5 separate regions of the Homo sapiens genome follow, and all the other regions are linked to region 5. Evidence: fine-mapped expression QTL. A gene starts in region 5. Each other region holds a variant in brackets. All regions are shown on one strand. Distances are between the middles of the regions.

Region 1 (6,073 bases), 56 kb before region 5:
TTTAAACTTCATATGGAACCAAAAAAGGGCAAGTATAGCCAAGCCAATCTTAAGCAAAAAGAACAATGCTGGAGGCATCATGCTACCTGACTTCAAACTATATTACAAGGCTACAGTAGCCAAAACAGCAATGTACTGGTAACAAAACATATAGACCAATGTAACAGAACAGAGACCTCAGAAATAACAACACACATCTACAACCATCAGATCTTTGACAAACCTGACAAAAACAAGCAATGGTGAAAGGATCCCCTATTTAATAAATGGTGCTGGGAAAACTGGCTGTCCATATGCAGAAGACAGAAACTGCACCCCTTCCTTACACAAATATTAACTCAAGATGGATTAAAAACTTAAATGTAAAACCCAAAACCATAAAAACCCTAGAAGAAAACCTAGGCATTACCATTCAGGACACAGGCATAGGCAAGGACTTCATGACTAAATCACCAAAAGCAATGGCAACAAAAGCCAAAATTGACAAATGGGATCTAATTAAACTAAAGAGCTTCTGCACAGCAAAAGAAACTATCATTGGAGTGAACAGGCAACCTACAGATTGGGAGAAAATTTTTGCAATCTACCCATCTGACAAAGGTCTAATAACCAGAATCTACGAAGAACTTAAACAAATTTACAAGAAAAAAAAATCCCATCAAAAAGTGGACGAAGGATATGAACAGACACTTCTCAAAAGACAACATTTATGCTGCCAATAAACATATGAAAAAAAGCTCGTCATCACTGGTCATTAGAGAAATGCAAATCAAAACCACAATGAGATACCATCTCACGCCAGTTTGAATGGCGATTAAAAAGTCAGGAAACAACAGATGCTGGCAAGGATGTGGAGAAATAGGAGAAATAGCCTTTACACTGTTGGTGGGAGTGTAAATTAGTTCAACCGCTGTGGAAGACAGTGTGGCGATTCCTCAAGGATCTAGAACCAGAAATACCATTTGACCCAGCAATCCCATTACTGGGCATATACCCAAAGGATTATAAATCATTCTGCTATAAAAACATATGCACACATATGTTTACTGCAGCACTATTTACAATAGCAAAGACTTGGAACCAACCCAAATGCCCATCAATGACAGACTGGATAAAGAAAATGTGGCACATAGACACCATGGAATACTAAGCAGCCATAAAAATGAATGAATTCATGTCCTTTACAGGGACATGGATGAAGCTGGAAGTTATCATTCTCAGCAAACTAACACAGGAACAGAAAACCAAACACCACATGTTCTCACTCATAAGTGGGAGTTGAACAATGAGAACACATGGACACAGGGAGGGGAACATCACACACGGGGGCCTGTCAAAGGGTTGGAGGTAAGGGGAGGGATAGCATTAGGAAAAATACCTAATGCATGTGGGGCTTAAAACTTAGATAACGGGTTGATAGGTACAGCTAACCATCATGGCACATGTATACCTATGTAACAAACCTGCACATTCTGCAGGTGTATTGCAGAACTTAAAGCACAATTAAAAAAAAAAAAAAAGGGCCAAAATTTTAAGAATGCATCGTGGGCCAGGCACAGTGGCTCATGCCTGTAATCCCAGCACTTTGGGAGGCCGGGGCAGGCAGATCACTTGAGGCCAGGAGTTTGAAACCATCCTGGCCAACATGGTGAAACCCCATCTCTACTAAAAATACAAAAATTATTCGGGTGTGGTGGCATGCACCTGTAAGCCCCACTACTTGGGAGACTGAGGCATGAGAATCGCTCAAACCCGGGAGGCGGAGGTTGCAGTAAGCCAAGACTGGGCCACGGTGCACTCCAGCCTCAGCGACAGAGCAAGACTCTGAGAAAAAAAAAAAAAAAGAAAGCAAGCCTGGTGACATTCATATATTTTAAAACATACTATGAAATGGAATTGCAAATACAGTGAGAATGACTCTTCTATATATTTTCTTGCTTTGTTTTCCCTTTTCTTTTACACTGCCCTTGTATGCCATATGCAGCAATGGCATAGCCTACAATGCAGACAATTTGTAAATATTCCTCAAATACTACCAGGTTCAGTGATAGACACTTTCTGTTTTTTTTTGTTGTTGTTGTTTTTTGTTTTTTTTTGAGACGGAGTCTCACTCTGTCACCCATGCTGGAGTGCAGTGGCGCGATCTTGGCTCACTGCAATCTCTGCCTCCCAGGTCCAAGCGATTCTCCTGCCTCAGCCTCCCAAGTAGCTGGGACTACAGGCACACGCCACCATGCCCAGCTACTTTTTTTTGTATTTTTAGTAGAGATGGGGTTTCACATGTTGGCCTGGATGGTCTCGATCTCTTAACCTCGTGATCCAATTGTGGCTCAAATATTTCTATTCCGGTTGTTCGTGTCTGCATTGCTGCCCCACTGTGGCTGACTGCCTACATAGCCTCAATTCTTCAACTTTCCATGTATATTCACTCTTCACCAGATAATCCTGCAATATCCAATATGCTGTCACTCTGATGGGATTCAGTCATGTGATTTGTTTTGGCCAATAAATAGGGTGACAGTAGATGTCATGTAAGCAGAGGTTTTTTTTAATACCATGAAAAGCACTTGAACAGTTGGACTTGCTCTGCTTTGCTCTCTGCCATCACCAGCCCCCAACTACTGCCCTCTGCTGGGCCAGCCTGCTGGTCCCAATCAGGGGAGAACTTACACATCGGCCAGAGGCAGGGCATCCCTGTCATCTCAGCTGAGGCCACTTTAGATGAGCCAACAACCATCCAAGACCAAGTGAATGGGCCCACCCAAGATCATCAGAAACACCCAATTCACCTGCAGGTGACCAGTACATGAGTGAGCCCAGCAGGGATCAGCTGAATCCCATGGACTCCTGAGCCCCCAAAATGTTTAGTTGTATGCCGCCAAAATTTTGTGTCTTCACACATCATAAAACCAACAGAAAACTGATACACCCATAATATCCAGACTCCCTTTGGAAAGACATTTTTACTAAGAGAGAACCAAATCTCTATGAATAATTACCTTTAAGCAAATACGATAAATATGCCATAATTTAATGGAGAATTAACACTTTCTCAAAGCCGATCATGATCAATCTTTAATCTTCCATATAAAGTGAAAAATGATTTGCATTAAACATCACAACGCCACAAAATCAACCCTTCTTATTTCAGGTGCTTTATTTTAGGCCCTAGTTGTATTTAATGCATTTTTCCTTCAAGAGTTTTTGTTACCACCTTAAATTCTTTTGGGGCAAAGAAGAGTATAAATAAGCAGGCAAGTATATCCTCTCTAATGAGTATTACATTCCTCAAAATGTAAACAACAAATATCCTTTTCTCTTTTTTGATTCTCATTCTCAGTATTTAAAAAATATCCTTTTTTATTGGAGATCTTTCTTAGACCAAAATGATAACTTCAAATAGTAAATATTCTATATGTATGTGTATATGTTTATGTATTATACAACTATGTTTATATATTTTAACATATACATATTTCACACTTTGATAATATACTGTGAAATTAGTTTTTAATGGCAGAATATATTTTAATAGTTTAAACAACTATGAAATCTTATAAGAAAATGAAATAATCTAAATGTATTAAATTTAATTTCTTAACAGATTAAGTCTATAATCATATAAGCAAATTGTAAAATTCAAGACGGTCTTGAGACAGTCTTCATAAATGATCATTGTCTACTGAGCTTAA[T/C]ATGTAGTGACTGACATAACTGAATAGTTTTCATTTTGGCTGAATCTGAACTAAATGAGACTGTGAATGGCTCTATGTTTCAGAAATTACACATTGTGAAATATACACTACTTTGAGAGTGGATTTGCTGTGAAGACAGTCTCACCTGATCATGCATTAGTGCTGCAATGTGTGTTGTTTTCCCTCCAGGTGCTGCACACAAGTCTAGAATCTTCTCTCCAGGTTGAGGATTTAGTACATGACTTACTAAGGCAGATGGCAAATTCTATAAGGAAAAAAATGTAATCGATTATCAATAATCCTAAAGCATTTTTAATTTGAGAACCAGAGAATATAAAGAACCCTTTGGGGGTAATCCACTACAGCATCCTCACGTCTGCTAAGAGGACAATTTTTATAAATATACTCAGGTTAGGAAATTCACAATTTCCTAGAATATCCTACGATCTCCCAGGACTTACACACAAACCACCTGCGCAAAAATATACATGACACAATTTTCAAGTCAACTGAACTCAATTGCCTTATCAGTATTTTCTGGGTACCAGCAAAAAATAAATAAATAAATAACCCATATTATTTCCTTTTCTGAATCCCAATGGTTCTCAATATTCTGGAAGCCAGAGACCTCTAAAATTGCAGGACCACTCTGGACTTTTTTCCCAAAAAATGTACAAAATTTTGGTCTCAGCGGTCATTACTCAGCATTTTAGTACAAAAGCATGCCATTTTCATATAGACATATCATCTGAGAGTACTTCAATCTCAGCATTGTTCACTTTAATAATTTAAACTCCACTTGGGAACACATAAATATTAAATAATTGGTTTCTTCCAGTTAACCAAGAATATAACTTTGCCATTTTGGCCGCCTCATCATCTAACTCTCATTTAAGATGCCTTGTTTTATGCTGCTAAATCACCCAAAAGGCATGTTTGGGTCCCTGCTTCCACCACATTTCAACAGGAAATGAACTAAAATGCAAAAACAAACAAACAAACAACGACAACAACAAAAAACCTCAAACCCTGGCTGTTTCTGACTGGGACCTAAATATATATTATGAGGTTATACAACCAAAACATACCTCATCTATAGCAGTAAGTCATATTAAATCATTAATTTGTTATTAGTATCAATTATATAAGGACTACTTACTATAGAATGATAGCCTTGAATAAAACAGATAGAACAGTATCATAAAATAACTCATTTCTAAAATTATTTGGCAAGAAAAACAGAGTCTTATAAGCATGGAGTTACTTGTTTGGTTATTTTGGAGACAGAGTCTCATTATTTTGCTTAAGCTGGGTTCAAATTTGGGATCCTCACAATTGTGCCTCTTAAAGCTTAAAGGTTTCAATTCATTCCTACCAAAAGACTGAACAATACATCCATTAGTACACCCTCAAGAACTGTGAGATGGCCAGGAGTGCTGGTTCATGCCTGTAATTCCAGCACTTTGGGAGGCCAAAGCGGGAGGATTGCCTGAGGTCGGGAGTTTGAGACCAGCCTGACCAACATGGAGAAACCCCATCTCTACTAAAAATACATTAGCTGGGCATGGTGGCACATGCCTGTAATCCCAGCTACTCAGGAGGCTGAGGCAGGAGAATCACTTGAACCCAGGAGGTGGAGTTTGCAGTGAGCAGAGATAGCGTCAATGCACTCCAGCCTGGGCAATAAGAGCGAAACTCCATCTAAAAATAAATAAATAAATAAATACATACAAACATACAAAAAAACTGTGAGATGGCTACAACATTCTCAAGGGAATCTAAGATCACCACTTTGAAACAAACTCAGTGGTGAGAAAGCAGTTTCAAACAAGCAAATTTCTTCCTCTGAATATATGAAGCATTAAAATCAATGCAAACAATTTAGGCACCCAAAGAGCTAAGTGTCAGGCCTCTGAGCCCAAGCTAAGCCATAATATCCCCTGTGACCCGAATGTATACATCCAGATGGCCTGAAGCAACTGAAGATCCACAAAAGAAGTGAAATTAGCTTTAACTGATGACATTCCACCATTGTGATTTGTTTCTGCCCCACTCTCATCAATGTACCTTGTAATCTCCCCCACCCTTAAGAAGGTTCTTTGTAATTCTCCCCATCCTTGAGAATGTACTTTGTGAGATCCACCCCTGCCCGCAAAACATTGCTCCTAACTCCACCGCCTATCCCAAAACATGTAAGAACTAATGATAATCCCATCACCCTTTGCTGACTCTCTTTTCAGACTCAGCCCGCCTGCACCCAGGTGAAATAAACAGCCTTGCTGCTCACACAAAGCCTGTTTGGTGGTCTCTTCACATGGACACGTGAGACACTAAACACTAAAAATAGCTTAACCTACTATAGTTTATCCAGCAAGCTCTAC
Region 2 (6,073 bases), 840 kb before region 5:
TTTTTTTTGAGATGGAGTCTCTCTCTGTCACCCAGCCTTGAGTGCAATGGTGTGATCTTGGCTCACTGCAACCTCTGCCTCGTGGGTTCAAGCAATTCTCCTGCCTCAGCCTCCCGAGTAGCTGGGATTACAGGCACCCGCCACCACACCCGGCTAATTTTTTCTATTTTTAGTAGAGATGGGGTTTCACCATGTTGGCCAGGCTGGTCTTGAACTCCTGACCTCGTGATCTGCCCACCTTAGCCTCCCAAAGTGCTGACATTACAGGCATGAGCCACCACACCTGGCCAACAATAGGCTCTTGCTAGCTGCTGCTATTGGTCCCAGGGCAATATGGAGCCTTTCTAGGCTCTGGGAAGGCGCTCAAACAGTGGGTCAGGTAGTATCATGAAAAGCCTAGAACATCTGCAAAAAATGATAATGAGAGACGTCTTGGTGGACAGAGAAGCCTTAGAATCATAGACCATTAAAGCAAGAACAAACTAGGAAATGATGCATTTTGACATCATCATTTTATAGATGAAGCACCAGGCTCAGGGAGGTAAAATGTCCAGAAGGTGACTGTTTAGCAGGTAGATGTAGATCCAGGACTTTGCTCAACGGCTTGTACTTTTCCACATCCCCTTAGATTTCTTGCTGCGCTGTTAGATCAAGTAAGTGCAAATTAGGTTATTCCTGTTGCCATTTGCGGGTCTCACATTTGGCTGGAAGGGATCCAACTGTGGTTCTGACATAGACATCACGCTAATGGTATAATCCTGATACTCCTCTATTTCATTTCCCTCGTTGAAATGCTAAGAAAGATAATTATTATCATGTGATTATCACAGTAGTGGTTTTTCACAAGCACTCTTGAAAACTTTGATTCCAATATAAATGTATGTCTTATGGTAAATATTGATTCTTCAGTGTATTTTTTCACAAAACTGAATTAAGTGGGAGAAAAATACAAGCACCTTTCTCCTTTTTAAATTTGTTCTCCATCTTTCTCAGTGTTTGTATCTAGAAGGCTGAGCTAACTTTTATGCTTTGGAACATAGGGCTAGATTTTATATATATAAATATATACATATATATATATACACACACACACACACACATTATATATATATATATATATTTTTTTTTTTTTTTGAGACAGGGTCTCACTCTGTCATCCAGGCTGGAGTGCAGTGGCATGATCATTGCTCACTGTAGCCTTGACTTCCCGGGGTCAAGTGATTCTCCCACCTCAGCCTCCTAAGTAGCTGGCACCACAGGTGCATGCCACCATGCCTGGCTAACTTTTGTGTTTTTTTGTAGAGATGGGGTTTTGCCATGTTGTCCAGGCTGGTCTCAAACTCCTAGGCTCAAGTGATTTGCTCACCTCGGCCTCCCAAAGTGCTGGGATTACAGGCATGAGCCACCATGCTCAACCTTAGGTTTTGACAGTTGTGCAGCTTTTGGTTTAATCTACAAATATTGCACATGAATAACTGTAGTAGAAACTTAGACCTCAGGGACCCATAGCTTCCCATAAAGCAGATGGGAAGATGTCATTGTGCACCTTTCCCTATGTGAGAAAGTTGAAGCTCTGAAGATTCAGTGGCTTGCAGAAGTCAGGTAGTCAGTAAAGACCAGAGCTAACTCTTCATTATGATCTTTAGACTCTGAGGCTAAGAAGTAGATAAATTTACTACCTGGAGTGTGTTGATCAGGAAAGATATAATGTGGTTCAAAATAACACTATGTTAGAAGAAGGACTTAGATCCCTTTATCTGTATCAATTTTTTTAGACTTTTCACTTCAAGAGGGGGAAAGGAAGGAATTAATATTTATCAAGTGTGTATTAGATGCAGATAATATGCTGGGTGCTTTACATAAATGATCTCATTTAGAAATTCACGGTAGCTTTACCAGACAGCATTATTGTCCCCATTTTACAGATGAGGAAGTAGAGGCTAGAATGGCTAATAGCACTAAGGCATCACAGCTAAAAAATGGTGGAACCAGGATTTGATTGCAAGCCTATCAACCCCAAAGAAGATAACCCTCCACACCACATCCCCTGAGGCTAGAAACCCTGCAGTTCCGTGTTCTCGGTCCTTCCGTCCCTCTTTTTTTTTTTTTTTTTTTTTTTTTTGAGACAGAGTCTCGCTCTGTCGCCCAGGCTGGAGTGCAGTGGCGCCATCTCGGCTCACCGCAACCTCTGCTTCCTGGGTTCAAGTGATTCTCCAGGGATTATAGGCGTGCACCACCCTGCCAGGCTAATTTTTGTATTTTTAGTAGAGACGGGATTTGGTCATGCTCACCAGGCTGATCTCGAACTCCTGACCTCAGGTGATCCCTCCTGCCTTGCCCTCCCAAAGTGCCGGGATTACAGGCGGGAGCCACCGTGCCTGGCCGGTCCCTCTTTCTGCACTGCTGCAACAGTTCTCTGCTCTTTCATTTCATCTTATTCTGAAACATCTCACACTGTCTGTACGACTGATTTTGCCAAGTTAACAATAATAATAATGAATATATATTAAGCAATTCCTGTGTCAGGAACTCTTCTAAGCACTTTATTTAGATGATCTCATTTCATTCTCACGACAATGAGGAGGTCCTGCTATTTCCCCCTTTATTTTACAGATGGGGAAGTGGAAGCACAGAGTAATGTTGAACTTGGCCAAGGTCACACAGTCAGCGAGCAGCGGAGTCTGTTACCTGGGAGCCAAATCCTAGAGCTCTGATTATGTCATGATCAGATTGACATGATACATACATAAGGTGAACGAATTAGTGGGGCTATGCATGGAAGAAGAAAGAGCAGTGTGGTGTCAGCTTCTTACCTAGTAAAGGGTTTTGTTTATTTATCTTAAGGGGGATCTGGGGAGGCTGGCATTCAGAGGCTGAAGAAATAGGAGTGAGAGCAGAAACTAGCTGTGGAGAAGTAGGAGGGTTCACAGTCCAGGACACAGGTAGGGCGGTCAGCAGGAGGAAGGAAGCCTCTTCTACTGAC[T/A]TGGGAGCGAATGGCCCCGGGAAGGTGTAGATATTCATATCTTTAAGGTGGTAGGAGGGAAGTTGGAAGAGTTTCTTGGCCTCTGTTTTGTCCTTGTGGTCAGACCCATACTGGGTTCATATTATGTACTTTTCCAAATGGCCAGTTGCAATGACCTAAATCAGTAGTTTCCCTGAATATTTTGGGTCTGAATGAAGGATCAAAGTGACAAATGAAGTAATTCTCTGTTTTTTTTTCTTTTGTTCAACATTTCATTTCTTTTTCTTTTCTTTTTTTTTTTGAGATGGTGTCTCACTCTGTCGCCCAGGCTACAGTGCAGTGGCACGATCTTGGCTCACTGCAACCTCCGCCTTGTGGGTTCAAGAGATTCTCCTGCCTCAGCCCCCCATAGCTGGGATTACGGGCATGTGCGACCACATAGGCTAATTTTTGTATTTTTAGTAGAGACGCGGTTCCACCATGTTGGCCAGGCTGATCTCGAACTCCTGACCTCAGGTGATCCGCCTGCCTTGGCCTCCTGTTCAACATTTCTAAGCCTAAGACTGACTAACACCCTCCATCAGCCCCCAGCACCTGGCATAGCTTCTTGAATGTACTAGGTGCAGGGTAAATATTTGTTTTTCACTGAATTTGGGGTCTTTGGGGAAAACATAGGTACATTTATTTAACTGAGGCTGGTGAACATATTTCTTAGTTTGGATTCCCCAAGAAGCTGTCCTCAGACAATTGCACTCTGGTTTGAGGGCAAGTTAGTTTATTTGGGAAGTGAGCCCAGGAAACACTGACAGGGTAACGGGGAAGTGAGACAGAAAGGGAAGGTGTGTGGACACCCAGTGACCGCTGTGGGCAATGGAGTGTAGGAGCTCTGGGCGACGGTGTGGAATGGTTGCCTTGGACTCATCACATCCAAGGTACAAGAGATTTAGAGCCGTCAGCGGTTCTCCTTGGCCTCTGATGAAGGCTTCCTCCTACAGGGCATTCGTTTTCTGACCCATCTAATTTGTGCCATGTTTGAGCCTAGAGGGCTCTGATAGCCAGAAAAAGCCCCCAGGGCAAAAGGCGTGGTGCTGGCGTTTGGGAGTGGGGCCTGCATGCACCTAAACAGCGAAGGCCGAGGAGAAATAGTATAAATCTGGAGGCATCTGCTACAGCTACTTGCTGCTTTTCCTCTTATCTGGCTTCTCTGTCTTCCAGAAGTTATTGTCTTTTGTGTTCCAATGTCAGCATTTTATTTGCTGATAGTCAGGAAAATCTAAAAATGTATAAGAAAATGTAGCATATCATACTTATCTCCCTGAACAATCACCTTTAATAACCAAATTTTCTTTGCTAGTAGGCTTGGGAATTTAATGACTTGTTCAATGTTGCGGCATAATTTTAAAAATGCTTAAAAAAAATCCAGGCCAGGCGCGGTGGCTCATGCCTGTAATCCCAGCACTTTGGGAGGCCGGGGCAGGTGGATCACTTGAGATCAGGAGTTCGAGACCAGCCTGGCCAACATGGTGAAACCTCATCTCTACTAAAAATACAAAAATTAGCTGGGTGTGTGGTGGCACATGCCTATAGTCCCAGCTCCTGAGGAGGCTGAGGCACGAGAATCGCTTGAACCTGGGAGGCGGAGGTTGCAACGTGTTGAGATCACACCACTGCACTCCAGCCTGGGCGACAGAGTGACTCTGTCTCAAAAAAAAAAAAAAAAAAAAGAAAGAAAATCCACACCTATGTTACTGGATGTTTAGTCTTTAATCATTTTTAACCTGAGATATTGGGTTGAAACTTATTGCATGTTACTGGATGTTTAGTCTTTAATCATTTTTAACCTGAGATATTGGGTTGAAACTTATTGCTTCTTTACTAAATGTATTTTGATCCTTGATCTTTTTGCCTTTGAGTTAACCACAGCAGAGAGTGTGCTCAACATGGCAGGAAACTTATGTCTTTTGTTTGTCTTTGTATTGTCATTAGCATAGCATCTGGCGTGTGGTCATTGTTTGTCAAGTATTTGTTGAAAAATTAATGTGAAATTAGTAAGATCAAGTTAGGATGGAAGGAGAATCACTGCAATTCTGGATATAAATTTCTGATGTGTAAGTATTAAAAAAAGAAACTCACATATTAGATCCTACAAAAGAGATTGCAGAGAAATTAAAACAGATCGACTGTGTCGATCTGTTCATCTTTGCCGTATTTCTGTTACAAAAACATAATTGGTATGGACAAAAATAGAATGTTTATAAATGTTGGTGTGGTTAATATTGGTAAAAATGCCACAAGCTGCCTTTTGGCCAACGTCTTGAATACGCCTTCAGAGGAAGAAGTATGACATTTTAAGTCAGACATGTTGCAGAGATGATGATAAAGGCAAAATGACATGCTGATTACTTGGGGAGAAGAATAATGCACGATGAATGTATCACCATAGAGCAATAATTTTACATTTCCTTGTATTGTCTGGCAAAGGCAATATCAAACTTACACTGCTTCCTAATGGCAAAAGATAAATAAAGGAAACAAGAATAGATAAGTGTGTATTGAAACAGAACCTTTTCATTTCCAAGTACCCTTTTTGTAAGTATACACATTTCTAAATTGCTCTTCAGTAAAAATAAGCTTTCAGGGGAAAAATGAATATTCAGCATACCTGTAATCATTAATCTATCATTAGATAAATAATTTATCTGGGTTACTAGTTAAGATGCTTCCGCTTAATAAACATTCTTTCATTCATTCAACTAATTATTTGTTGAGAGATTATTTATGCTCCCCAAAAAGAGACTGCAGCACTAAATCAGAAAGATCAAGTACCTCGTCTCATGAAATTTACATTCCAGTAGGGGACTATGGACAGAACATTAGTAAACAAATTGAAGAAAAATATATTTTAAGATGGTTATGGATATTATATGGTAAATAAAAGAATAAAATGAGTTAGGATGATCAGCCTGCTACGATGTTGACACTTGGCTGGGCGCAGTGGCTCACACCTGTAATCCCAACACGTTGGGAGGCCGAGGTGTGCGGATCACTTGAGGTCAGGAGTTCGAGACCAGCTTGGCCAACATGGTGAAACCCCACCTCTACTAAAAATAC
Region 3 (6,073 bases), 32 kb before region 5:
ATTTGAAAATGCACATAAATTTTAGAGAACCTTAAAGACAAATCTAAACATTATACTTACATTGTGATGCTGACACAATTCCTGGGGCATAGACATGGGCTCCTCTTAAAACTGCATTGCCACACTGGGCTCCAACAATGGCTTCACACTGTTGTTTTTTAATATTCTTTCTAGAAATGTAAGACACAAGAAGTTTAATAGTAACATACCTCCAATGCCTACCAATTTTTCCCGTGTTCTATCTGAACTCTAATGCCTCTTTAGTCTTAACTGTCCTGAATACATAAGAAAACGCTGAAAAGAGAGGCATACATATAGAGGAAACAGGAAAAAACAGCAACACGAAGATGGGCACTTGAGAGGAAGAAAAAAATCAAGAGGTCCATCTGCTGGAAGGCAATAAAGTGGCACCAGAAATTGCTTAATCATTTAACAAGCATTACTGTTTATCATAGCATTAGGAGAAAAATAGACTTTCTCTGTCTTCAAAGACTAAAATAGAAAAATACACAAGGAATTACAAAAACATTTCTAAAGTGGTAAATTGTTGCATGGTAAATTATGAATAATTTAAACAAGACAGGAAAAGAAGATAAGTCTTTTTTCCTTCCTTTGCTGCCCAACCTTTTTGAGTCTTTTCCAGTTTCTCACATTCATTTCTTAGACCACTAAAATCTGTATTACTTCTAACACTCAGGGTTCCAAAGATCAGGGACCCAATGTGATCAGCCCTAAATAAAAACCCTTAACAATGAGTCTCTAATAAGCTTCCTTGGATGTGCTGTCACAACTCACTGCTGGGGGAATTAGGTGCATCCTGTCTTCAATTCCATGATCGCCAATTCATCAAATCTTACTAATTTTTCAGCTTTATACCCACTCTTTCCTGGTCCCAAACATTCTCATTGCTCATTCTCTGCCTACTTCTTAGAGGCTCTCCCCGCCAGGTTCCAAAACATGCGACCATCTCTACTCACCTTGCATTCTATCCCTTGGCAATCTCATGATTTCAATAATCACTCACAAAAACAATCCACAAATTCTAATGTTTAGCCTTTCTAGTTTTTTTTTTTTTTTTTTTTGAGACCAAGTCTTTCTCTGTCACCCAAGCTGGAGTGCAGTGACGCAATCTTGGCTCACTGCAACCTCTGCCATCTGGGTTAAAGTGATTCTCATGCCTCAGCCTCCTGAGTAACTGGGATTACAGGTGCTCGCCACCACACCTGGCTAACTTGTGTATTTTTAGTAGTGACAGGGTTTCACCATGTTGGCCAGGTGGGTCTCGAACTCCTGACCTCAGGTGATCCACCAGCCTCAGCCTCCCAAAGTACTGGGATTATAGGCATGAGCCACCACGCCCAGCTTAGACTCTTAATTAGTATTTCTAATTACCTACGGACAGCTATATAGAGACGTCTCACAGTTACTTCAAACTCAACAAGTCCTAAACAATAATCAGTTTTCCCTCATCCATTCCTCCACTCCTTGGCAGGATCCCAAATCTTTTCATCCTGTTTCCAATCTTGAATGAGACGTCATTATCTGCCCAGATAACCAAACTAGATGCCTCAGTGTTACGGTCTGGATGTGTCCCCCAATATTCATGTGCTGGCAACTTAATCCCTAGTGCAACAGTGTTGGAATATGAGGCCTATTGGGAGCTGTTCAGGTCATGAGTGCTCTGCCCTCATGAATGAATTAATGCTATAATAAAAAGGGCTTGCAGCAGTGAGTTTGCTTTCTCTTGCCCTTGTGCCCTCTACCATGTACAGATGCAGCAAGAAAGCCCTCACCAGATGCAAATGCCTCGATCTTGGACTTCGTATCCTCCAACACTACAAAAAACAAATTTATGTTCTTTATAAATTATCCAGTCTCAGGTATTCTGCTATAGCAGCAAAAAATAAACTAAGACACTCAGCGTCATCTTAAAGTCCTCCTAAGCCTTCACATTGATTGATTTAGGAATCAAGCTATCTTCTAGTTCTGATAGGTTTTGTGGGCGTATCTCCTGATGTTGGACACATATCTCTTTGTGATTACTGAAATAGCTTCCTGCCTTTTACCACTGGTTTCAGATTTTCTCTGTCTTTGGTGTTCTGCAACTTCACTCTGAAGTATGTAGACATGAATCTACTTTTACTTTTGGCTTCAAGCTCACACTTCTTAAATTTTTCATCAGTGATAGAAATTCATGGTCATTACACTTGTGATTATTGTCTTTCCCCCATTATTCCTATTCTCTATACCTGAGACTCATTAAAAATATAAATGCTGGTCAGGTGCAGTGGCTCACACCTGTAATCCCAGTACTTTTGGAGGCTGAGGTGGGTGGATCACATGAGGTTGGGAGTTCAAGACCAGCCTGACCAACATGAAGAAATCCCCGTCTCTACTAAAAATACAAAATTACCCAGGCATGGTGGCGCATGCCTGTAATCCCAGATACTTGGAAGGCTGAGGCAGGAGAATCACTTGAACCCAGGAGGTGGAGGTTGCAGTGAGCCGAGATGGTGCCATTGCACTCCAGCGTGGGCAATAAGAGCAAAACTCCATCTCAAAAAAAAAAAAAAAAAAAGAAACGTAAAGTGCTTTTTCATGACTCAATTTCACTTTCATATTTTTAATTTCTCTCTGCTGCATTCTAGATAATTTCCTAAGAGTCATCTCCTAATTCAAAAACTTTCTCATCAGTTGGGTCTAATCTGCTGTTTAATTCATTGTATGAGTTTTTAATTTTAATGATAATTTATTTTTAGAAATTTGTTTTCAATTCTACCTTTTTATCCTTAGGGTCTTTTATGTTTTACTCTTTCATTTTTAATCATTTTAAGAAAACTGTTTTGTCTACAGCCATATCACTCTGAACATGCCCGATCTCAGCTGATCTTGGAAGAAAACTGTTTTTATAGTCTATGCCAGAGAGGTCTATTTGTTAAAAGTTCTGAGGGAAATCCAATCCTGCAGCTTATTATATATGCTGATTCTTACTCATAGTGGTTTGATTCCCAGTGTAGCTTTTAACAATGCCAAGTGTTTGGCTTGGACTGAATGAGTGCTGCTCCAGAGTGGTGTCACTTAGTTTTTGCCAAGTACCCAGGAATTGGCTTGGGACCAAACAGTTAATTTCCCAGTTTGCAGGTTCCAATTTAGGTTGCAGCAATTTGCATTCCAGACCTTTATGACGGAGGGAACTTACGGCTGCGCATTCTCAGAAACACATTTTTCTCCAACCTATATCCTAAGGCAAGAAAGACCTACTTTTAATTACTGCCTTGTAATGACTACTGGGTATTTCTCACCCTTACTATTAACACTTAATTGTTTAAACCAAAGACCCTAAATTTAGAAGAAAGACCACCTCCTTTCCCATACCTTCAACCCCCCAATAATAACTCACATGCTTGCTGTTCTCTTTTCAATTATTCTGCATTCCTAACCTCTAATATATCAACTACATTTTTAATCACTCAACTACATCATTTTGTGGCCTACTATGTTCTTTTTTACTTAGCACTCCTCGGTGTATGTAGCAAAAACATCTTCATGTTATCTAATTCACCATACATATTATTGAAGCTAAAAAACTCGGAAATACTTTTCTAACTTTTCTCCAGGTTTGCAATTCAACTTTTGAAAAAATTTCTGAAACTTTTGACTGTCAGTTGATGTAAGAAACACACTTGATAAAAGAACTTATTTCAAGTTTTTATATCATTTGAGATCTTGATATAAGAAACTACACATACATGTCTGTGTGTG[T/C]GGTATCACACATAACATTTCATTAAATATTTTTACTATGTGCGATGCAATATATTATAAAACATCCCTTTTTTTTTAAATATTCATTGAAAACATTAAATTGATTTCACAAGTTACTAATGGGTCATGATCTCCAAGCAGTTTGGAAGACCACTACCACTATTATATTTCTAAAATACACATCTAATTTTTACTAATAAAAAAAATTTTTTTTTTTTTTGAGACGGAGTCTAGCTCTGTCTCCCAGGCTGGAGTGCAGTTGCGCCATCTTGGCTCGCTGCAAGCTCCACCTCCCGGGTTCACGCCATTCTCCTGCCTCAGCCTCCTGAGTAGCTGAGACTACAGGCACCCGCCACCATACCCGGCTAATTTTTTGTGTTTTTAGTAGAGATGGGGTTACACCGTGTTAGCCAGGATAGTCTCGATCTCCTGACTTCGTGATCCGCCCGCCTCGGCCTCCCAAAGTGCTGGGATTACAGGCATGAGCCACTGCGCCCGACAATAAAAATTCTTTAGCTTCTTAAGTCTATGAAAAAAAAATTCCTTGGTACAAAAAAATCTTCATACTTCATATCTGCCTCTCCCAACTTCTTCAGTTTCATCTTTCACCCATCCCCCAACTCTGAAAACAAATAGCCAAACCTGATCACTTTTATCAGCAGCCACCAATGTTTCATGCATTCATGTCTTTCCTCATGCCTTCTCTCTGCCTAGCATAACCTTGCCCACCTTAACAGCCCTTCGGCCTAATTTCTCCTCACCTTCAAGACTCAAATGAAATAATATCTGCTTAGAGAAAATATTTAACAATTTCTTTGTACTCAGTCCTTCCTATTCTATGCTCCAATAGCATTTAATTTATACTTCTACTGTGACTATCATAACAGTCTGACTTGTACCAAAGTCTCCTGACTTTAGACTATAGAACTATGTCTCATTCATCTTTGTAACACCATCACATCTCACATATAGCACAAATTCAAAAACATGTTTTGTGGAAGTGAAATCTGTAGTGTTAGATTTTATGAAAATAACATGGAGGGGAAAGGATGAATTCTGGAACAGAGAACTGTGCAGAAAAAAGTTAACATAGTAGGCCTGATCTGTTATCTTTGAAAAGCCTGCTTACAAGGCTGGCCCTTGACTGACATCTGGGAACTGAGATTTCAGGAGGTTTACTTATTAACTGCTAAGAGTGGCTCACTGTGCCTGAATTATTGAACAAACTATGATTTATAGTAAATACCAGCTTTCCTTCTGAGAATCCAGAATGTGGGTATGTACCAGGCAGTGGGAATCTACATGATGAGCCCTGAATAGGAATCCTGGCAGTGAGTCTCATGTGGTCACAGCTCAGCACTGGGGGACTTCCTGTGGGAGTCCTGTGTGACTCCCCTGGAAGAGGACTCTGGAAGCTTGTGATGGTTTTCCCTTTGCTGATTGTGCTTCATATTCTTTCACTGTAACAAATCATAGCCGTAAGTACAAGTATGTGCTGAATTCCCTAATTCCTCTTAGAGAATCACAGAACCAAGGAATGGTCTTGGGGATCCATAGACACCAGGACTGACAATATAAAAACACAGTATGTCATATGCAAGTATCAATATTTAAGTCAGCATTGTTGAAAGGGAGTTTTTACTAGGAAAACTAAAAGAGCAAACGTAAAAGTTGGTGCAAGGCCATAAAATATGCTAAAAGCTTGATTTTTATTGAAATGTTTCCAAATAGAGTGCATCAACAACATTAAAGAAAGATTACGTTCCAACAGTTTAGTAATATAGGTTGGAGAAAAAAACTATAAATACACCTAGATTGAGAGAAAAGTATTAGAATAGCTAAAAAATGAAGTAGCTAAGGAATTAAAAACAGATTATGGGAATGTCCTGTTAAGGAATCTAAAATCATGTATTTTTATCTATTTGGTATTTTAACTGCACATATTCACAACCCTACACATACTAACAACCCTACACCAAATGGAAGGTGATGGATGAAACTGTGAAACAGCACATGATATTGCTGCATGCCAAATACTTCTTTGCAGCAGGACTGCCACCTTTATTTAATCAGTAGTCCTTGTGCAACAGCATTTCTTAAATATTCTATTGCAATAACCCTATTCACACATATATATATATATATACGAATGACACACACACACACACACACACAGACACACACACACAAAAATTGAAATCTTAAAGTGCTTGTTATGGATGGAATATTTGTGTCCCCAAAATTCACATGCTGAAACCCGAACTCAATGTGATGGTATTTGGAGAAGTCTTCAGGGGTAATTAGTTATGAG
Region 4 (6,073 bases), 83 kb before region 5:
CTCCATTCCATTCCGTTTTCCATTCCAGTTCATTCCGTAATCAATTACATTTTCCATTCCATTCTGCATTCTCGATTCCATTCCATTCTCCATTCCATTCCCTTCCATTCTCCATTCTATTCCCTTCCACTCTCCATTTCATTCCCTTCCATTCCATACCATTCTCCATTCCATTCCATACCATTCTCCACTCCATTCCATTCTCCATTTCATTCCACTCTCCATTCCAGTTCAGTCTCCATTCTATTCCATTCCATTCTCCATTCCATTCTATTCTACTCCATTTTCCATTACATTACATTCTCCATTCTCCGTGGCATTCCATTCCAATCCATTCTCCATTCCATTCAGCACTCTATTCCATTCTCCATTCCATTCTCCATTTGTTACATTTTCCATTCCATTCTCCATTCCTTCCCATTTTCCACTACATTCCATTCCATTCTTCCTTCCATTCCATTCCACTCCATGCCATTCCATTCTCTATTATATTCACAACAATCTCCATTCCACGCTCCATTTCATTCCATTCCATCCTCCCTTTCATTCCATTCTCCACTCCATTCCTTTCTCCACTCCATTCCATTCTCCATTCCATTCCATTGTCCATTCCATTCTATTCTCCATTCCAGTTCATTCTGCATTCCATTCCATTCTCCATTCCATTCCGTTCTCCATTCTGCATTCCATTCCATTCTCCCTCCCATTCCCTTCCATTCTCCATTCCATTCTCTTCCATTCCATACCATTCCCCATTCCATTACAATCCCCATTCCATTCTCTATTCCATTCCATTCTCCATTCCACTCTATTCCATTCTCCATTCTACTCTATTCCATTCTCCATTCTTTATTCTATTCCATTCCACAATCCATTCCATTCCACATTTCATTCCATTCCACATTCCATTCCATTCTCCATTCCATTCCATTCTCCATTCCATTCTATTCCATTCTCCATTCTTCATTCTATTCCATTCTGTAATCCATTCCATTCCGCAATCCATTCCATTCCACATTCCATTCCGTTCTCCATTCCATTCCATTCTCCATCCCATTCTATTCCATTCTCCATTCTTTTTCATTCTATTCCATTCCACAATCCATTCCATTCCGCAATCCATTCCACTCCACATTCCATTCCATTCTCCATTCCATTCTCCATTCTTCTTCATTCTATTCCATTCCACAATCCATTCCGTTCAGCAATCCATTCCATTCTGCATTCCATTCCATTCTCCATTCCATTCCATTCTCCATTCCATTCCATTCTCCATTCTATTCCACTCCATTCTACATTCCTGTCCAATCCATTCCATTCTCCATTCCATTCCATTCTATTGCATTCTACTCTCCATTCCATTCCATTCTCCAGTCCCTTCCATTCTCCATTCTATTCCATTCCATTTCCCATTCCATTCTATTCTCCATTCCATTGAATGCTCCATTTTCTGTTCCATTCCACACCATTCTCCACTCCATTCTCCATTTCATTCCATTCCATGCTCCATTCCATTCGATGCTCCATTCGATTCTGCATTCCATTCCATTACCCATTCCCTTCAATTCTCCATTCCATACCATTTTTCATTCCATTCCATTCTCCATTCCATTCCACTCTTTCCCATTCTCCATTCCATTCATTCCATTCTCCATTCCTTTCCATTGTCCATTCTATTCTCCATTCCACTCCATTCTCCATTCCAGCCTCCATTATATTTCATTCTATTCCATTCTCCATTCCATTCTATTCACCACTGCATTCCATTCCATTCTACTCTCCATTCCATTCTCCATTCCATTCCATATTCTATTCCTTTCTCCATTCTATTCCATTCTCCATTCCATTCCATTTTCCATACCATCCTCCATTTCATTCCATTCTATTCACCACTGCATTCCATTCCATTCTCCATTACATCCTCCATTACATTTCATTCTATTCCATTCTCCCTTCCAGCCTATTCATCACTGTATTCCATTCCCTTCTATTCTCCATTCCATTCCATATTCTATTCCTTTCTCCATTCTATTCCATTCTCCATTCCATTCCATTTTCTATACCATCCTCCATTCCATTCTATTCACCAATGCATTCCATTCCATTCCATTCTATTCTCCATTCCATTCCATATTCCATTTTCCATTCCATTCCATACCATTCTCCATCATTGCATTTCATGCTCCATTTCATTCCATGCTCCATTCCATTCCATGCTCCATTCCATTCCATTCTCCATACCATCCTCCATTCCATTCCATTCTCCATTCCATTCTATTCACCACTGCATCCCATTCCGTTCTCCATTCCATTCTCTTCCATTCTCCATTCCGTTCCATTCCATTCTCCATAGCATTCCATTCTCCATTCCATTCTCTATTCCATTCCATTCTCTATTCCATTCTCCATTCCATTCCATTCCTCATTGCATTCCATTCCGCATTCCATTCCATTCTCCTTCCATTCTATTCTCCATTGCATTCCATCCTCCATTCCATTCTGCATTTCATTCCATTCCTTTCTCCATTTCATTCCATTCTCCATTCCATTGCATTCTACATTCTTCATTCCATTCTCCATTCCATTCCTTTACATTCCATTCTCTACTCCATTCCATTTTCCATTCTATTCCATTCTCCATACCATCCTCCATTCCATTCTATTCACCACTGCATTCCATTCCATTTTCCATTCCATTCTCCATTCCATTCCATATTCTATTCCTTTCTCCATTCCATTCCCCATTCCATTCCATTCTCCATTCCTTTCTATTCACCACTGCATGCCATTCTATTCTCCATTGCATTCTATTCTCCATTCTCCATTTTCCGTTCCATTCCATTCCATTCTCTATTTCATTGCACTCCATGCTCCATTCCATTCCATTCTGCATTACATTACATTTCTCATGCCATTCCATTCTCCATTCCATTATCCATTCTATTCCATTCTCCATTCCACAAAATTCACCATTCCATTCCCGTCCATTATCCATTTCATTCTCTACCATTCTCTGTTCCACTCCATACCATTCTCCATTCCATTCCTTTTTCCATTCCAGTTCATTCTCCATTCCATTCCGCATTCCATTCTATTATCCATTCTATTTCATTCTGCATTCTCGATTCCATTCCATTCCCTTCCCTTCCTTTCTCCATTCCATT[C/CTCCAT]TCCATTCCATTCCATTCTCCATTTCATTCCATTGTCCATTCCAGCTCCATCTCCATTCCATTCCATTCTCCATTGCATTCCATTCTATTCTCCATTCCATTCCAAACCATTCTCTATTCCATTCCAATCCATTCTCCATTCCATTCCAATCCATTCTCCTTTCCATTCCATTCCCCTTTCCATTGCATTCCATTCCACATTCAAATCCCCATTGCATTCCATTCTCCATTCCATTCCATTCTCTTTTCCATTCTATTCTCCATTCACTTCCATTCCATTCTGCATTCCATTCCCTTCCATTCTCCACTCCACTGTCCATTCCATTTCATTCTCCATTGCATTCCATATTCCAATACATTTCACATTCCATTGCAGTCTCCCTAACATTCTTCATTCCATTCCACATTCCATTCCGTTCTCCATTCCATTCCATTCTCTATTCCATTCTACATTCAATTCCTTTCTATTCTCCACTCTCCATTCTGTTCCATTCCAATCCATTCTACTCTCCATTCCATTCCATTCTCCATTTGGTTCTCCATTCCATTCCAATCCATTCTCCATTCTATTCCATTCTCCATTCCATTCCCTTCCCCATTCCTTTCCATTATATTCTCCCTTCCATTACATTCTCTATTCAATTCCATTCCAATCAATTCTCCATTTCATTCCATTCTCCATTCCATTCAATTCCACATTCCATTCCATTCTCCATCCGTTACATTCTCCATTCCATTCCCCATTCCACTGCATTCTCCATTCCATTCTCTATTCCATTCCATTCCATTCTCCATTCCATTCCATTCTGCATTCCATTCTCCATTTCATTCCACTCTCCGTTCCATTCCATTCTCCTCCATTTCCAAGTCCATTCCATTCTCCATACCATCCTCCATTCCATTCCATTCTCCACTCCATTGTATTCACCATTGCATTTCATTCCATTTTCCATTCCATTGCATTCTCCATTCCATTCTCTTCCATTTTCCATTCCATTCTCCCTTCCATTCCATTGCCCATTCCATTCTCAATTCCATTCCATTCTCCTTACCAACCTCCATTCCATTCCTTTCCATCCTCCATTCCATTTCATTCCACTATCCATTCCATTCCATCCTCCATTCCATTCCATTCTTTTCCATTTTCAAGTCCTTTCCATTCTCCCTTCCATTCTATTGTCCATTCCATTCTCCACACCATTCCATTCTCCTTACCAACCTCCATTCCATTACATTCCATTCTCCATTCCATTATATTCACTACTGCATTCAATTCCATATTCTATTCCTTTCTCCATTCCACTCTCCATTCTATTCCATTCTCCACACCATCCTCCATTCCATTACATCCCATTCTCCATTTCATTCTATTCACCACTGCATTTCATTCCATTCTCCATTCCATTCCATTCTCTATTCCATTCTCCATACCATTCCATTCTCCATTCCATCCCATTCCGCATTCCATTCCATTCTCCATTCCATTCCATTCTCCCTTCTATTTCCTTCCATTCTCCATTCCATTCCTTTCCTTTCTCTATTGCACTCCATACTACTCCCCATTCCATTACATTCCCCATTCCATTCTCAATTCCATTCCATTCTCCATTGCATTCCACTATTCATTCCATTCTATTCCATTCTCCATTCCATTCTATTTGCATTCCATTCCATTCTCCATTCCATTCCACTGCCCATTCTATTCTATTCCATTCTCCATTCTTCATTCCATTCCATTTCGCATTCCATTCCATTCTCCATTCCATTCCACTCCATTCTCCATTCTATTTCATTCCATTCTCCATTCATGTCCATCCCATTCCATTGCATTCTATTCTCCATTCCATTCCATTCAATTCTCGATTCCATTCCATTCTCCATTTTCCCTTCCATTCCACACCATTCTCCATTCCATTCTTCATTTCATTCTATTCCATGCTCCATTCCATATTCAATTCCATTATCCATTCTATTTAATCCTCCATTCCATACCATATTCCATTCCATTCCCTTCCATTCTCCATTCCATTCTCCATTCCATTCCATTCTCCATTCCATTCCATTCTCCAATCCATTTCGTTCCACTTTCCATTCCATTCCATCCTCCTTTCCATTCCATTCTCCATTCCATCCTCCATTCCATTCCGCTCTTTTCCATTCTCCATTCCAATCCAGTGTCCATTCCATTCTCCATTCCATTCCACTGTCCATTCCATTCCATTCTCCATTCCATTCCATTCTCCATACCATCATCCATTCCATTCCATTCTATTCTCCATTCCATTTCATGCTCCATTCCATTCCATTCTCTATTCCATTCCATTCTCCACTCCATTTCATTCCATTCTCCATTCCATTCTCCATTCCATTCCATGCTCCCTTCCATTCCATTCTCCATACCATCCTCCATTCCACTCTATTCACCACTGCATTCCATCCCATTCTCTATTCCATTCTCTTCCATTCTCCACTGCATTCCATAGCATTCTCCATTCCATTCCATTCTCCATTCCATTCCATTCTACATTCAATTACATTCTACATTCCATGTTCTCTTTTCTCCATTCCATTCCCATTCCATTTTCCATTCCATTCTATTCACCACTGCATTCAATTCCCCATTCCATTCCATTCTCTACTTTCCATTCCACTCTCCACTCAATTCTCCATTTCATTGCATTCCATGCTCCATTCCATTCCATTCTCCATTCCATTCCACTTTTCATTCCATTCTCCATTCCACTATCTATTCTATTCCATTCTTCACTGCATTCCATTCTCCATTCCATTCCCTTCCATTCTCTTCCATTCTCCATTCTGTTCCATACCATTCTTCATTCCATTCCATTCTCCATTCTCCTTTCCATTCCCTTCCTTTCTCCATTCCATTCCCTTCTTTTCTCCATTCC
Region 5 (6,073 bases):
GCTATTTTAGTCACCAAAAATGAATAAATTTAGAATCAGAAGTACTAGGTTCAAGTTCTAGCATTACCACCTAGGATAACTTTGAAGAATTTACCATTCATGGTCCTCAATCTCCTTATCTGTAAAACTGGAAGTGTATTATATCATTCATAGGATTTTAATGGAAAACATGGTAGATTGCAAAAATGTAATTATGTACAAATGACAGAAAATTTCCACAAACCTTCTGAAGTTCATCAAGTAACAGATTTTTCACATGTTGTACTGAGGCTAAATGTGTATTCACTCTGACAGTTGTAAATGATGGAGGATGTGACAGGTGCTTTAACAAAGTTTCAAACTTCCTTTCTGCTTCTTGTTTACCTAAAGCAGTCACAATCTAAAAAGAAGTTCATGTTTAAATTTCCTGAGAATTAAAAACAGTCAGCAGAGCATCCTTATATATTAATTCCATCTAATGAAACATCGCTTAGCAATTGTTCAGCTCCATTCTATTTTGCTGTATTGTTTATATGTTAATAGCAACTAAGGAAATAGTAATACTTCACGGGGTTCTTGGGCTTCAACATGGTAATAAACACCTAAGAAAATGCCTGAAATAAAGGGCTTAGAAAAACATTGCCTAAACTTCAAAGCATTATGAACATTTTCCAAATATTAGTATCTGCTACATTTATTCACATAAATTCAGGAATTCAGTCTATTTATAATGCATTACCATTACAGCATCTCTGTAGAGCTAGCATTATATCCAAGTTAGTTGGACGTTAGCTAATTAGCTAACATCATATCCAAGAGCAAACTGGCTGGTATCCTTTTAAAATACCAATATTTAAAAAATAAGTAATATTGATATAGTCACTGTCATATAAAGATTCCCCTAGGACATCAGCTTTTTAATATGGTGTTATTAAATGTAACAAATATATATTATCCAAAAAAGATGAGTAGCAAAGACACCTGTCAAATATGACGGTATAAAGACTCAACAATATTCCCTTGTAATTAACCGAAGCTTTTCAAGAAACGTATTTCTTTGTCTTCCTATTTGACTAAACCCTGCTTTACAGAATCTTCACAAACCACTTGTTAGCCTACTCATGCACCAGCCTTAAAAGTATTCATACTTTCTCAAGGTTTAGTCTTATCAAAACTGAACATTCAGCCTGGGCAACATGGTGAAACCCCATCACTACAAACAATACAAATATTATTAGCCAGAGTGGTGGCCCCTGTCTGAGGTCCCAGCTACTCGGGAGGCTGAGGTGAGAGGATCACTTGAGTCCCAGAGGTCGAAGCAGCAGTGAGCTGTGATCATGTCACTGCACTCCAACATGGGCAACAGAGGGAGACCCTGTCTCAAAAAAAAAAAAAAAAGGCATAAAACTTAATATTCCTTTCCCTTCAGTACTTTTCACAAAGGCATAGCTTTTCATTTTGTAAAACCATACCACTGATGAGACTCGAGGCAGAGGCAGTGTCAAAGAAAGACGTTTGGATCTTCTTTATAAAACGACGTTCTCCATTTTAAAATCTGCTGAAAAAATTGTGGTATGCCCCTACTTCTCCTAATATGTGCCTTATATTTTAAGTCCCTTGAAATCAACAGAATATATTTTCTCTTTCCATACAGTCTAGTACCTCAAGCTAATCTTTGGAAATGAAACGTAGAAATCAAATCTAAAAGGCATGGCTTCAATAACATATTCAAAAATGAGTAACATTTAAGTGGTGTTACTCTAACTAAGAAAACTAAAGATTTCAAAAAAAACAAAGTTGCTTAGAGGCAACATGGTAAAGTGGTAGAGAGGACAGGCTTTGCAATAAAAGACAATCAACATTTACTGAGGACTTCTGTGGCAGGCACTGCCAATTGCAAACAAAATTAACATTTTTTGAAGACTTACATGCCAAAACAATGCAAGTTGTTTTCATTTACGTTTAATATCCTAAAACAACCTGGTAAAATATTTTTAACTTGACTAAAAAATTAAAGATTTGAAAAAAAACAAAGTTGCTTAGAGGCAGCATGGTAAAATGGAATAGACAACAGGCTTTGCAATCAAAGATAATCAACATTTACTGAGGACTTTAGCAAATAAAATTAACATTTTTTGAGGACTTACATGCCAAAACAATGCTAGTTGTATTCACTTACGTTTAATATCCTAAAACAACCTGGCAAGATATTTTTAACCATTCTCAATTTTTCACAGAAGAGAAAAATCTAGGTTAAGCCACGTAATTTACAAAGCACTAGAATGCAAATCATGTGCCTGAGATTCAAAAGCTGTACCTTTGTTCATTACACCTGAACTCTTTCCCTCCAGATTTCAATAGTTACTTGATAGCTGTGTCAACTTGGATCAGTTACACAATTCCTTGAGCAGTTTTCTGCTCAAGTCTATTAAAAGAGGAAAAACCTCTAAGAAAAAAAAGATTGTGAAGATTAAAGATGCAAATCTCCTAGCACAACTGCTGGCATTTAAGAGGCACTCAACAAATTACAGAAACCTTTTCACCTGAGTGCCAGAGCCAGCGCTCTTTTAAAATTCGATTCGAGTTCTTGAAGACAGGGACCTTTTCTTGTTCATCCTTGTAACCCTTTGTGCCATGCCTGACAGGCACATGCCTTTTTTCCCTTCTTTTCCACTCCTAAATGTTAAAACATATACCTTATTCACTTCGTATCTCAGTAAGCTTTAATACCTGTAGAAACATATTGGTATTTTTACACTTGATAGACAAGTAGTAAGGAACGACGGCTGTCAAGATTTCCCTTTATACTTATTTCTATTTCTCTCGAGTGTGCGAATATTTGAGTTTTTGCAAAATATCAACTAACATCTTTACTTGACCTACCTCCTTATTCATAAAGCCTTCCTTAAGATAGTTTTCAACCTCAGGTCTCAAAGATATCTTAGGGAAAATAGACATTTTTCCTGTTGTTTAGTTCTCCACCAAGAGAAATGCTGGAAAACGGTGTTTTGTTTTTTTTTTTCTTTCCGAATTAATAGTGACGAGTGTCTTGACACCAGATGCTGAGGAAAATCTTGCCGATCACGCTGAGTTAATTTCGGAAATGCAGAGGTACACGCTTTCTCAAGCCTAGCCGATTAGAAGGGGCTGCCGGGCTTCCACCACACCTCATCGAGGCAATGTTTTCTGGTAGAGATGCTCATGGAAATCACTGAGCCAATGCCACTCACGTTGCAAAGAACCAAAAAAAGAAAAAAATGCTTAGTAACTGAATCCGTGGTGAAACGGACGCAGATCAGTAAGCCAGGCTGACAGCAGCTCGGTCCCTTTATCTTTTCTATCAATTTCCAAACACGCGCCCCCTATTTCTCGGCGGAAAGTCGCTTCCGGCTTACGTCACGTCCGGCGCCTGCGGCCCACCCCTCCCTTTCCGGTCCCCCAATCCACAGCCGCAAGTTTCCCCAACACTGCGTTACGCTACGCCACGCCCCCGGAGGTTCCTAACCCTGCGTGAGGCTCTTTCACCTGCCTCAGGTTAAGTAGGCAGACCCCGCGGGCGGGATGGTCAAAGATATTTAGTTCCCGGTACCGGAGGGCTAGGTGCCAGGGGCAATGGGGAAACAGCCAAATGGCGTGGGTTGAGTGGAAGATGTTGCTGGACTGAAAAAAGGCACAGCCCAGTTGCTGTCCTGCCAGATGTCCTCCAGTTAGAGGATGAGGCCAGAATTTGGGCGCATCAGCCACCGTTTGATTTCATGACATGATTTTACCTCTCTCAGGCATACAGATCTGACTTCAGTTGTGAAGTTCATAGGGTTCATATTTTTGAAAGTTGGGCTAATGGTCTGTTAATATCCAATGCTCAGGTAAAACTTAAAACCCACAGACAGTGTTTACAGTTAGTTATAAGGCTAACTGCTACTTGTATCATAGTTGACATATTCTTTAGAGTTTGGAAGACCCTCGCCATTATTTTTTTTTCTTTTTTTTCATCATAAGCAGACAAGGATATAGATTCAAAGAACGAGGATATCTAACCAAACTCACTGAGTCATTTTATAACTGTACAGGAAAGTCAAAATAATTCTATCACCTTGACATATGTTTTTTGCAGCACACCATGGTAATTTACACATAAGTATAGGAAAGGGTTTTTTATTGTTTTTTTCTCTTTAATTTTCACACCGAATTATACACACAGACACACACACATAGAACAGGTACTTTCCATGACACACCAACTCTTTACCAGAAAGAGTAGAAAATAATGAATGACCATTATACCACACAACAACCTGCAAGTTGTTTATCATTTTCTCTGCTCTTTTTTTTTTTTTTTTTTTGAGTCTCTGTCGCCCAGACTGGAGTGGAATGGTGGGATCTCGACTCACTGCAACCTCCACCTCCTGGTTCAAGAGATTCTCCTGCCTTGGCCTCCCGAGTAGCTAAAATTACAGGCATGTGCCACCAGGCCCAGCTAATCTTTGTAATTTTAATAGAGACGGGGTTTCACCATGCTGGCCAGGCTGGTCTCAAACTCCTGACTTCAACTGATCTGACTCTCTAGCCTCCCAAAGTGCTGGGATTACAGGCGTGAGCCACCACGCCCAGCCCATTTTCTCTGTTTTAAAGAGTAAATCAAGGTTCCTAGGGTTGAAACAACTCTCCATGTTCTCACAAATAAAAAGCCAGGATAAAGACTAGTAATTTGGCTTCTAGAGCCAATACCTTGTCCTTGACCATAGCATATTTCTTCAATAAATCCATGAGATTCTTTCATGGCTAAAACATCTGAAAGTGATAAATGTCTAAATCAGACATTTCCAAAGGAATTTCTGTAGCCTGAATTTCATGGTGACCATAGCACCACTGATGGCTAGAATCTGTATTTTAGCGATAAAGGAGGAGAAACAAGTTGAACTACATTTTAAACTCCACAAGGATAGAGACTTTATCACACCACTATGTACCCAAGCCTAATCCATAATGGGCACTCAAATACTTACTGAATGACTAAATGAAAAGATGGATGAACATCTCTATAAACTATGGAAAGAAAATGCTGATAAAGCATTTGCCAGAAATTACTTCACTAGTGCCACACACGGACAGAATTGAGGACATTTAGACTTTTTTGTTTGTTTGAGATGGAGTCTCATTCTGTCGCTCAGGCTGGAGTGCAGTGGTGCTATCTCAGCTCACTGCAACCTCTGCCTCCCAGGTTCAAGTGATTCTCCTGCCTCAGCCTCCCCAGTAGCTGGGATCATAGGTGCCCACCACCACGCCCGGCTAATTTTTGTATTTTTAGTAGAGATGGGGTTTCACCATGTTGCTCAGGCTGGTCTCGAACTCCTCAGCTCAAAGTGATCCACCCACTTCAGCCTCCCAAAGTGCTGGGATTACAGGCGTGAGCCACCACACCCAGCCATTTAGACTATTCTTGACTAGATGTTATAGTAATGACAGTTAATGTTGACGAAGATATCTCTTGGGATTCTAAGGCTGGATCCAAGAAAAGCATATTACAAAACAAGAGGTTGGCATAGTAGATATGTGCTATGTAAGCAAAGGAAAACTACTCTATGAATACACCCATATAAGATTTATTTAGGCTACAAGTTCTTCATATGGGCGACATGGCTCCCCAGGGTGTGGGGAACTCAGGGAGGACTGAAACAATTTTTGATACAATCTCACTCTTTTTAGTTTGTGGAACTCCAAAGCTTAACCTTACCAAAACAATCACTCCTGAGCATTTAATTTCATGGTAAGGGTATGGGAGAATTAGCAGGAAAAAATGTCTAGAAAGGCTCTTTAGGGGGATGATAATTTTAAAAGGTTGATAAAACACTGATTTAGGTGATCACTGCCCTCGAGTCTCACTCTGTCGCCCAGGCTGGAGTGCAATGGCATGATCTCGGCTCACTGCAACCTCCGCTTCCTGGGTTCAAGCGATTCTCCTGCCTCAGCCTCCTGAGTAGCTGGTATTACAGGTGCCTGCCACCATGCCCAGCTAGACAGTTAACTAATTTCTATCTAGTCCTCCCTTTTTCTGTTCTTCCAGGTTGCCTTTTTATTTCTTCTATGACAGACA

What was found.
Region 1: its variant is fine-mapped to the expression of NSUN6 in whole blood (INTERVAL, PIP 0.96).
Region 2: its variant is fine-mapped to the expression of NSUN6 in lymphoblastoid cells (GEUVADIS, PIP 0.91).
Region 3: its variant is fine-mapped to the expression of NSUN6 in whole blood (TOPMed, PIP above 0.99).
Region 4: its variant is fine-mapped to the expression of NSUN6 in whole blood (INTERVAL, PIP above 0.99). The same link has a PIP of 0.9 or more in monocytes after interferon gamma.

Annotation. Positions count from the first base shown.
Region 1 is chr10:18,592,371-18,598,443 of GRCh38, forward strand. It overlaps NSUN6 (NOP2/Sun RNA methyltransferase 6), which reads right to left. Exons shown (of 11, transcript NM_182543.5): 7 at 3,838-3,957. Among named protein-coding and RNA genes, the nearest start is that of CACNB2-AS1, 56 kb to the left of the region's middle. The variant T/C (reference allele first, on the strand shown) is at 3,693.
Region 2 is chr10:17,812,582-17,818,654 of GRCh38, forward strand. All of the region lies in intron 1 of MRC1 (mannose receptor C-type 1), which reads left to right. Among named protein-coding and RNA genes, the nearest start is that of MRC1, 6.3 kb to the left of the region's middle. The variant T/A (reference allele first, on the strand shown) is at 2,984.
Region 3 is chr10:18,616,124-18,622,196 of GRCh38, forward strand. It overlaps NSUN6 (NOP2/Sun RNA methyltransferase 6), which reads right to left. Exons shown (of 11, transcript NM_182543.5): 4 at 61-170. Among named protein-coding and RNA genes, the nearest start is that of NSUN6, 32 kb to the right of the region's middle. The variant T/C (reference allele first, on the strand shown) is at 3,763.
Region 4 is chr10:18,565,235-18,571,307 of GRCh38, forward strand. All of the region lies in intron 8 of NSUN6 (NOP2/Sun RNA methyltransferase 6), which reads right to left. Among named protein-coding and RNA genes, the nearest start is that of CACNB2-AS1, 29 kb to the left of the region's middle. The variant C/CTCCAT (reference allele first, on the strand shown) is at 3,165.
Region 5 is chr10:18,648,267-18,654,339 of GRCh38, forward strand. It overlaps NSUN6 (NOP2/Sun RNA methyltransferase 6), which reads right to left and starts at 3,321. Exons shown (of 11, transcript NM_182543.5): 1 at 2,863-3,321; 2 at 224-379. The coding sequence starts at 2,937. RefSeq lists an enhancer at 3,461-3,560.